2 separate regions of the Homo sapiens genome follow, and region 2 is reported to be linked to region 1. Evidence: microRNA targets listed by miRTarBase, many of them from high-throughput screens and not tested one by one. Region 1 holds a microRNA gene; the other region holds the end of a gene's coding sequence.
Evidence for each region. Region 1 holds the annotated microRNA hsa-miR-4299 (GCUGGUGACAUGAGAGGC, at 1,851-1,868, shown strand). A microRNA usually pairs through its seed, bases 2 to 8, with sites in the 3' UTR of a target mRNA and lowers its output. Matches are read on the target gene's strand: a 7mer-m8 pairs with bases 2 to 8, a 7mer-A1 pairs with bases 2 to 7 and ends in A, and an 8mer does both.

Region 2: the mRNA of NUDT16 is a reported target of hsa-miR-4299. The part of its 3' UTR that is shown has no 7-base or 8-base seed match.

Annotation. Positions count from the first base shown.
Region 1 is chr11:11,654,005-11,658,528 of GRCh38, reverse strand. MIR4299 (microRNA 4299) reads left to right here and starts at 1,807; the gene lies at 1,807-1,878.
Region 2 is chr3:131,382,608-131,386,607 of GRCh38, forward strand. It overlaps NUDT16 (nudix hydrolase 16), which reads left to right. Exons shown (of 3, transcript NM_152395.3): 3 at 555-4,000. The coding sequence ends at 734. Among named protein-coding and RNA genes, the nearest start is that of NUDT16, 2.8 kb to the left of the region's middle. RefSeq lists an enhancer at 1-175.

The DNA.
Region 1 (4,524 bases):
CAGGACTCTCTAAAATCTGGGAGCCAGGGCAGGGACCCCTCTGGCCTAAGAGTGGCCTTGTACATTGGACTAATCCCTTAGATGCTAGATCAGGATGTGCTTCTTGCTTTCTGAGTACTTTTTGTGATTTGATGTTCAATATCTGTTTCCATGGTTATCGCCTCCTCGCTCATCCTTCTCAGCTCCTGTTTTCTTTCATCACTAATCTTGGAGATTTTCCTAAATGTGCTCTCTATATTGCAGATGATATTTTTTGGAGGGTCAATTTTGCTAATCATTGTCATTTATTGTCCTTTAGGGCTATTTAAAATGTTTTGCTACTTTATTTTTATTCCATTGTAACTTTATGTCTTTTAAATTTCATCCAGTTCCCTTTGTTTTCCAATTTTTAACTCAGCTGAGTCTTTATTTGTGATTCTTTTAGTCTACCTTACAGAGACCAAGAATCTTTCATGATATTCAAACATCAAGCAGGCTTCTAAAAATTTATTCTGTCTCTGATAGTAAATAGTTTTTTAAAGAAGATAATTTTGATTTTTCTTTTTATTTATTTCTATTTTTTTAGAGACAGGGTCTCACTCTGTTGCCCAGGCTGGAGTGCAATGGTGTGATCATAGCTCACTGCAGCCTTGAACTCCTGGGCTCCAGATCTTCCTGCCTCAGCCTGCTGAGTAGCTGAGATTACAGGTGGGCACCACTGGACCTGGCTTAGTCATTCATTTTTGAGAGGAAGTTAAACAGACTTTCTTTCATTTTGCTGACAGTTTAGTCCCTCTAGGGTCCTGGCATCTCGCCCTCACACATCTTGACATGCTGGGTGGCCTGAGGAGTGTGGTCTCTGCTCTAGTGTGCAGAGACATGGCACCCAGGGGCCCTGGCTTCCCTGGGTCACTATGCAGATGGCTCAATGTGAGCCGTTCTTGCTCTCTTTCAGAATTCTTTCTTGCGCTGCTAGTAAGGAAACAGGTGCTTTCCTCCTGGGCTGGCTGGAGCACTCCGTGTTTCCTGAGCTGGATAGATGTCATGGCCACATGTCATGTAGACCCTTCCTGGAACACAACACAAACTCGGTGACTTAAACCAACAGATATTTACTGTCTCATAGTTCTGGAGGCAGAAATCCAAAATTGAGGTGATAGCAGGATCATGTTCCTTCTGATCCTGTAGGAGAGAATCTTTCTTTGCCTCTTCCTAGCTTCTGGTGCTTTGCCAGCAATCCTTGGCATTCCTTGGCTTGGAGCTGCATACCTCAGTCTCTGCCTCGGTTGTCACATGGTATTCTTCCCTTGTGTACCTGAGTCTCTGCAGCTCTTCTCTTCTCACAAGGACACCAACCATATTGGACTAAGGGCCTACCCTACTCCAGTATGACTTGTTTTAAGAAATTACATCTGCAATGACCCAATTTCCAAATAAGGTCACATTCTGAGGTATTGGGGGTTAGGACTTCAACATATCTTTTTTGGGGACCCAACTCGATTTATAATAAGTAATGTTGTAGTGGGTGTCAAAATGAAGGTTTGGGGATATCATTAAGAGGGTAGGGCTAATTCATGGGGAATTTACGGTGCATTTAACCAGGAATCCTGGTAGGTTGTTGGGTGGTTGAGGAGTCAAAGTGAGCTTTGGGTTCTGCTATAATGACATGATGGCCAGGAACACAGGCCTGCCTAGATGCCAACCCTTCTTCCCACTAGATTATTCTCTAAGGAAGGTGCCCACAAGGAACAATGGTCAAATAGGAAACAAAACACCACCTACAAAACTGATCAAGCCTATTAGTAAAATATGGTCCATTGATTGTTTGGGTTCTGACCAATCATGTTACAGTGTTTTCTCCTTTAGAGAGAGCTGGTGACATGAGAGGCAGAAAAAGGACCATGGTGGGGAGGCCCTGATGTGAGAAGGTTGGTGGCAGGCAGGAGAACTCTAGCCACTAGTTTGAGGGTCTCTACTTTATGGAAGCATAGGTCTGAGAAAGGGGTTCTAGGTGATGATAGCCCTGTTCTTTGAACCAGGGTACCACATGAAGTTTCAATCTGGGCACGGGGATGGGTTCAGAGGTGCTCAGTACTGTATGCTGAATCTGCATCTGTAAGTCAGAGGAGACCAAGACTTCACTCCAGAAGCTGGGCTGGGAGCTGATTAAATCTCTCTTCCAACCTCCAGTTAGAATAGAGAGAGGCATACATGTATCCAAATGCAGTGTGTGTGGTTGTGGGGAGATGGAAGGGAAGGGAAGCCCAGATCCAGAGACTGGAAATCGAGTGAGAACCTGCCCTTTTGTCAACATGTTCCTTCTGTCGAGCATTCTTTATATGGTCCACAGTTTTCATCACTTGTTCAGTCATTCTGTGTCTCTCTCTATAGCTGTCATACTCACTTGGCAAAACTCCAAGCTGAATGTACTCAACCCATTACCTGCCAGAATTTGAGCAACTGTATGTTGCTGGAGAAAATCACACAAACTGAGAAGCTTCTTTTTAAATGCATAATCTCAACCCACCACTTGGTATTCAAACTGTAGTTAATAAACTTGCTTTTCCATCATTTAGGATGCTATTTCCTACCTTTGCCTATCTTCTCAAATTCCCTACTCCATTCCTGCACCCTTCACTCTGATCTAATTATCCTGTTTCAATTGTATTTAATTAAAAAAATTAGAACCATCAGCCATAAATGCCCCTAGCTTACATCTGAGTTCATTTGGGTCTTCTGCTTCTGGTCCTTCTGGTATAAAGGTGAAAATATGCTGTTCCCACCCCAGTTCCTGGAGCTGGATACTCCTGGAGTTCTAGATCCTGTCCTTTCTTACCTTCTCAAGGTTTTACTCCTCTGGCTATCTCCTATTCATCCTAAATTACCAATCCTACCCTCTTCTCTAGGGCTAGTCTCTTCAGTTCACAAACACGATTGACATTCCCTTAAGCCTAAAAGTCCTTTTTTGATTCCTTCATCCCTCTTCAGCTACTGCCCATTTCTCTGCATCGCTTCACAGTTTAACATCTCAAAATAGCTGTTTACATACTTGTTCCATGGTTTAAGCCTTTAATTAGTTTTCAGACTCTCGAGTTGGGTCTCTGACTTTAACACTTCACCCAAACTTCTTGTGTCAAGGTTACCAACAATCTCCAGGTTGCCAAGTCCAATGGACAATTTATACTCTCATTTTGCTCAGTTTCTCACTTGAGTTGTATCCCAGTGGCCACTCCTTTATTTGACAGTCCACCTTTGGTTTTCTTCCTTTCTCTAGATCTCTGACAATTTCATCCCAGTCTCTTTTATAGGTGCTCTTCCTGTACCAATGTCTACATATTGCTTTTTTTTTTTTTTTACAGTGCTTATTCTGTCTGCACTCTCTTCCTAAATGATTTATTTTCATGGCCCAAGATATCATCTGCATGCTGATGTTGTCTAAATTTATATATCCAGATCAATCTCTCCTTTGACCTTTAGATACACATATCCAACTTTCTACCTGCCCTTGCTGCCCTCACTCCCTCCTCCTTCTTGTGGTCCTCAATGTCTGTTGTTCATATCTTTATATTCATGTGTTTTCAATGCCAGAACAGAACTCTTGATTTTCTTTCCCCTGTAGTATCTTCAACCAGCTCCTCTCATAGTTTACCTATTCATTTTAGTAAATGGCAAGACTCTCCACCCACTTGCTCAAGCCAAAAATGTAAGTCTTATCCTTTATTTCTTCATTTTGTTGTTGTTTTTTTTTTTTTTTTTTTTTTGAGACAGAATCTCTCTCTGTTGTCCAGGCTGGAGTGCAGTGGTGCTATCATAATTCACTGCAACCTTGACCTCCTGGGCTCAAGAGATCCACCCACCTCAGTCTGCTAAGTAGCTTGGACTACAGATGCACACCGCCTTGCCTGGCTAATTCAATGTCTTTTTGGTTTGTTTTTTTTTTTTTTGTAGAGAGGGGTTCTTGCTATGTTGCCTAGGCTGGTCTCAAACTCCTGGGTTCAAGTGATTCTTACACCTCATCTTTTTAAAAAATCAATAAATCCTGTCATTTCTATCTCCTAAGTATATCTTAAGTCTGTCTGTTGGCTTCTGTTATTCCTCACTAGTCTAAGCCTTCAGAATCTTTTTCTTGGACTATGGCATTAACCCCTTTACTGGTCACCCTACTTGTTCTTAAGCTCCCTTCAAATCTATTTTCACAAAGTGATCTGAGGAATCTGTAAAAAAAAAATCAAATTACATTTTTTCCTTACTTTGAAAACTCTTCAGCAACTTCCCATTACACTTTTCATATTGAAATATAATTTATATACTATAAAATGTGCAAATCTTATTTTGTCTATTCAGTGAGTTTTCATGATTATATACACCCAAGTAGGCACTAGTGAACACAAGGCTGTCTTGTAATAGTAGTCTGTTCCTTTTTTATTTGCCTAACAAACAGTAATCCATTTTATGGACATACCACTATTTATTTGTCTATGCTCTTATTGATGGACAATTAATTTTTTTTCCAATCTTGGACTATTATAAATGATGCTGCTATGA
Region 2 (4,000 bases), not on the chromosome of region 1:
CTAGGTGTGGCAACCTAGGTTTTATTCTTGGGGTTTGCTTTTCTTGTGTAGGAGATGTGGCCCTGATATTTCAGGCAGGGCTAGTAGATAGATTATGTATGAAGGTGGTTCTCAAAATTTGGCAGGTAGCAGAATCATCGGGGCGTCTTATTAAAATAGCGATTTCTCTCAGCATTCCTGCATTGGTGGTGGGGCGGGGGGAGAGGAAACCTGAGAATTTGTAGTTTTCAAAAGTTCCCAAATAATGCTGATGCAAATAATCTGAGGACCACATTTTGACAACCACTGGTGAAAGGGTATGAATACATCTTTGAGGCAGTAGCCACTAGAGGTTTAGAAGCAGATGTGGGAAAGATTAATTGATAGAGCTAGATAATATGTTTTGGGTCATTTTCCTGCAGAAGGTTGGGCCACTAGGCTTTAGTGAGGTGTGAGCCTTGGGCCTGGTTCTGCTGGAGTATTAAGGGGTGAGGCCTGATCTGCTGGAGAAAGGATGGAGTTAAGGGAATGAGCCACCTGGGGCCCTAGTGTCTCCTGTCTCCTTCCTTTTACAGGTGCTGGGCCTGGTGCGAGTGCCCCTGTATACCCTGCGGGATGGTGTAGGAGGCCTGCCTACCTTCCTGGAGAATTCCTTTATTGGCTCTGCGCGGGAGCAGTTACTTGAAGCTCTCCAGGACTTGGGACTGCTGCAGTCTGGCTCTATTTCAGGCCTTAAGATTCCAGCTCATCACTAGAGGCAGCCCTCCATGGACCCATGAAAACTGAGATGAGGACCTTGGTACTAGGGAGGGAGGGAAGGACGTGGGAATGTTTTCTTATTGGATCTGAGAGATGATACATGATACCAGATGAAAAGAAGGAGAAGTGTGTACCATATGTTTTGAGCAGAGGACCCTCCAACTTATGGCATCAGGGGCAAAAAGTCACAGCTTATCCCAGGCACCCTGGCAGGTTCTCAGAGCCTGCCTCCTCCCTGTTTATATGCGTACAGCCTGGTAACCCCCAGGCATGCAAATATACAATCTGTAACAACACACAGCCTGACACCTTCCCCTGGTCATGTCCAGTTTAACCTTGAAGTGGCATTTGTCACACTACCCTGGTCCCTGATTGCAAGGAGCTTCTGAAGCAAGGGTGAATCCTTCCCACACTCCTCCATGGTTGCCCTCCAGGGTCTAGCCCAGCCTATTTGTTAGGGAGGATAGAGAAACAGAGCACCCCCTGTGCTTTCTGAAAATAGACTTGCTCTTGTCTTGAGTGGTGACCAAAGCAGTTGGCTCTTAAAAGGTGGGAGAGCAGCCCAACCAATCCCCAATCCTTTTCTTCTGAAACTGAGCAGGAAGGGTAAGGAAGTGGCTAGGTCTCCTTGGACTGAGCATGGACATGAGTCCTGTGAGGACTGGTGTCTCTCCTCTAGAGCTTTCATCTTTGGGATGCCTGAGACTCCGAGACTATCAGAAGGGAATTGACCCACCCCAGTCTAGCACCACCCTGCCTTCACTTCATCTACATAAAGGTGGTATAAAAACATAGACTGGAGGAGGTAATCCATGGAGAGAGAAAAAGAAGAGGGCTCAGGACAAGGCCCTGAGGAGGCCCAATCCTAAAAGTTTGGGCAGAGGGAACCAGGCACGTTAAAGAAGACAGAAAGCGGACTATGCAGAGTGCTTGTGAGGGTTTCACTAAAACAGAGGCAAAACTGTCCATTGAATTCAGTAACATGAAGTGTTTGATGACTATGATGGCAGCAGTTTCAGGAAGGGCGGTATGGAAGGCAGGCTGTACTGGTTGAGTGAATGGAAAGTTGGGGAGTAGAACGTGTGAGAAGTTGGCCTTCAAGGGGCTCAGGTTAATAATAGAGAGCTATGGAGTCAAGGCATGTTTAAGATGGGAGGTAGAGCATGCCAATATTGATGGCAACAGTCAAGATGGTGTGATGAGAGAGATGGGAGGGGCACAAAGAGGAGGACCCCTGAAGGAGCAGAGTCCATGAGAAAGAAGGAGGGATGGGACCTTTGTAGGAAGAGACACAGTCCTGCAGCCTCATATGGCTCAATAAAACAGAAAGGGGCAAGTATAGAAGATTAGGATGACTAAATTAATGGGGAAATGATGAAGGAGTTTGAATCTCTTCTTTGTGAAATGAAGTGAGACTATCAGCTAGTTGTGGGTGGAGTGTGTTCTCAGAAGGTATGAAGTAGATGTTTTCCTAGGTGTTGGAAAACAGGTTGATTAAGGCAACAGCAGAAGGGCAGGGCAAGGCTGAGCTCTGAGATGGTCAGTTTAGAGTAGGATGCTGGGCACTCAGGTGTGTGTGTGTTGAGTGGGGCTCTGCACACACCTGTCTTCCCCTCATCAGGATTCAGGAGCTGGGATGGGTACACTTACTGCAGTGTTGGGGTTTTGCCAGGGAAGTAAAAGGAGTTGAGAGAAAGATGGGTCAGTTCAGAAGACATACACAGGAGAAATTGTAGTGATGAAATGTGCAGTCTAAGGTTTAATCTGACCAAGAAATTGGAATTGAAAACAGGAGGTGACTAGGGAGGGATTAGGAAATTAGAGGTCTTGACAAGATAGAAACTCCAGCATGGTGAGGGGTTGGGCAGGGAGGTATATTTGAGCCAGACAGGAGTGCTTTGGAAATTGAGAGGTGGAGCAATCTCAGGTAAAGGCAAAATAGAGGGTATGACCTGGGGTTGCTGGCCAGAGCCAGGGAGGAGCCTTAAGAAGTGAAATCTAGGGTTGGCGAGGCTGGAGGGCAGGGTGAGCCTCCACATGGGTGCTGAAGCAAGAAACCGACAGATGTTGAGGAGAATGGTGTGACCTAGGAGTCAGCATCCTTGGTGAACAAGAGGAGTGGCCACAAGGCCAGTGGCACCTGCCAGAGGGGAAAGCAGGCATGACAGGATAGCATCTCCCAGGTGAGAGCCTTTTGAGGAAGGGAGGGTGGGCAGTGGTCTGGAAGCTTGATGCAGAGCAGTGTGGGTCCCACTGGCAGCCCTTGGTCTTAGAAGAATGGGAGTACCCAGTGGGGGAGCAGCTGTACAATGAGGTAGACTCCTAGAGGTTAATTATCATCTCCTAATCTTACCCTGACCCTTTTGTCAAACGTTATCTAGATTAAACCTCAGTATAGGCAGGCTGCAGGAAATGGACATTCCAGTGGCCCCTGGGGTTCCAGCCTGTAGCAGCTTCATCTGTGCTTTGTGCACTTGGTTCTCAGTCATCTCTGCAAGGGACCCTGACGCCTGGGAGATCAGAGCCACTGACCCTTTATGGCACTGCTAACAGACCCCTTCCCTCAGGTAATTCTGGATCCAGAACTCATTATGGGATGTAATCCAGGTCAACACTAATACCACTTGGAAGGTTCCGCTCTGTCTCACTCTGCTTGAGTATCCCACTGATCAGTCTCTCAGTGCCTGCCTACTGGGCAGCTCATCTGTCCACTTATTCGTATTAAATTTGCTTTTTATTTAGGTCTCTGGAGATGGTTGCGTGGGGAAGAGCCCATGACTTTCCTATATGATCCCTTGAACATACTCTCCAAGTCAGTAGATTACCTCTCAGGCAGCCTTCATAAAAGTGTTTCACTGTACTGGGGTTTGTGTTCATCTCACTCACATAGACAGTCTCTGGGTAGGCAGGTGGGGGGTGATACAAGTTCACACTCTGTGTTTCTCCTCCTGTTAGCCATTCCCACCCTGCTGATGTTTAAGGAAAGCCAGGGATGATGACCCACTTAAGCTTTCCTTGGCCTTGTTAAGTCCAATCATCTGGGGCAGGAAGAAGAGAAATGCTCATTGCAATCTTTGACCCCCACTAACTGCTGTGGTGACTTTGACCCAAGCCCTTGACCTCCTTTTCCTTATCTGAAATGTTGCTGTGATTCCTGTGGTGAGATCAGATGAGGCAGCACTTGGGATAAGCTTGCAGAGATGCATTGAGCGGTATGAAAGTACAGGATGCTATGTACTTTCCTGCTTCACAGCACATTTTG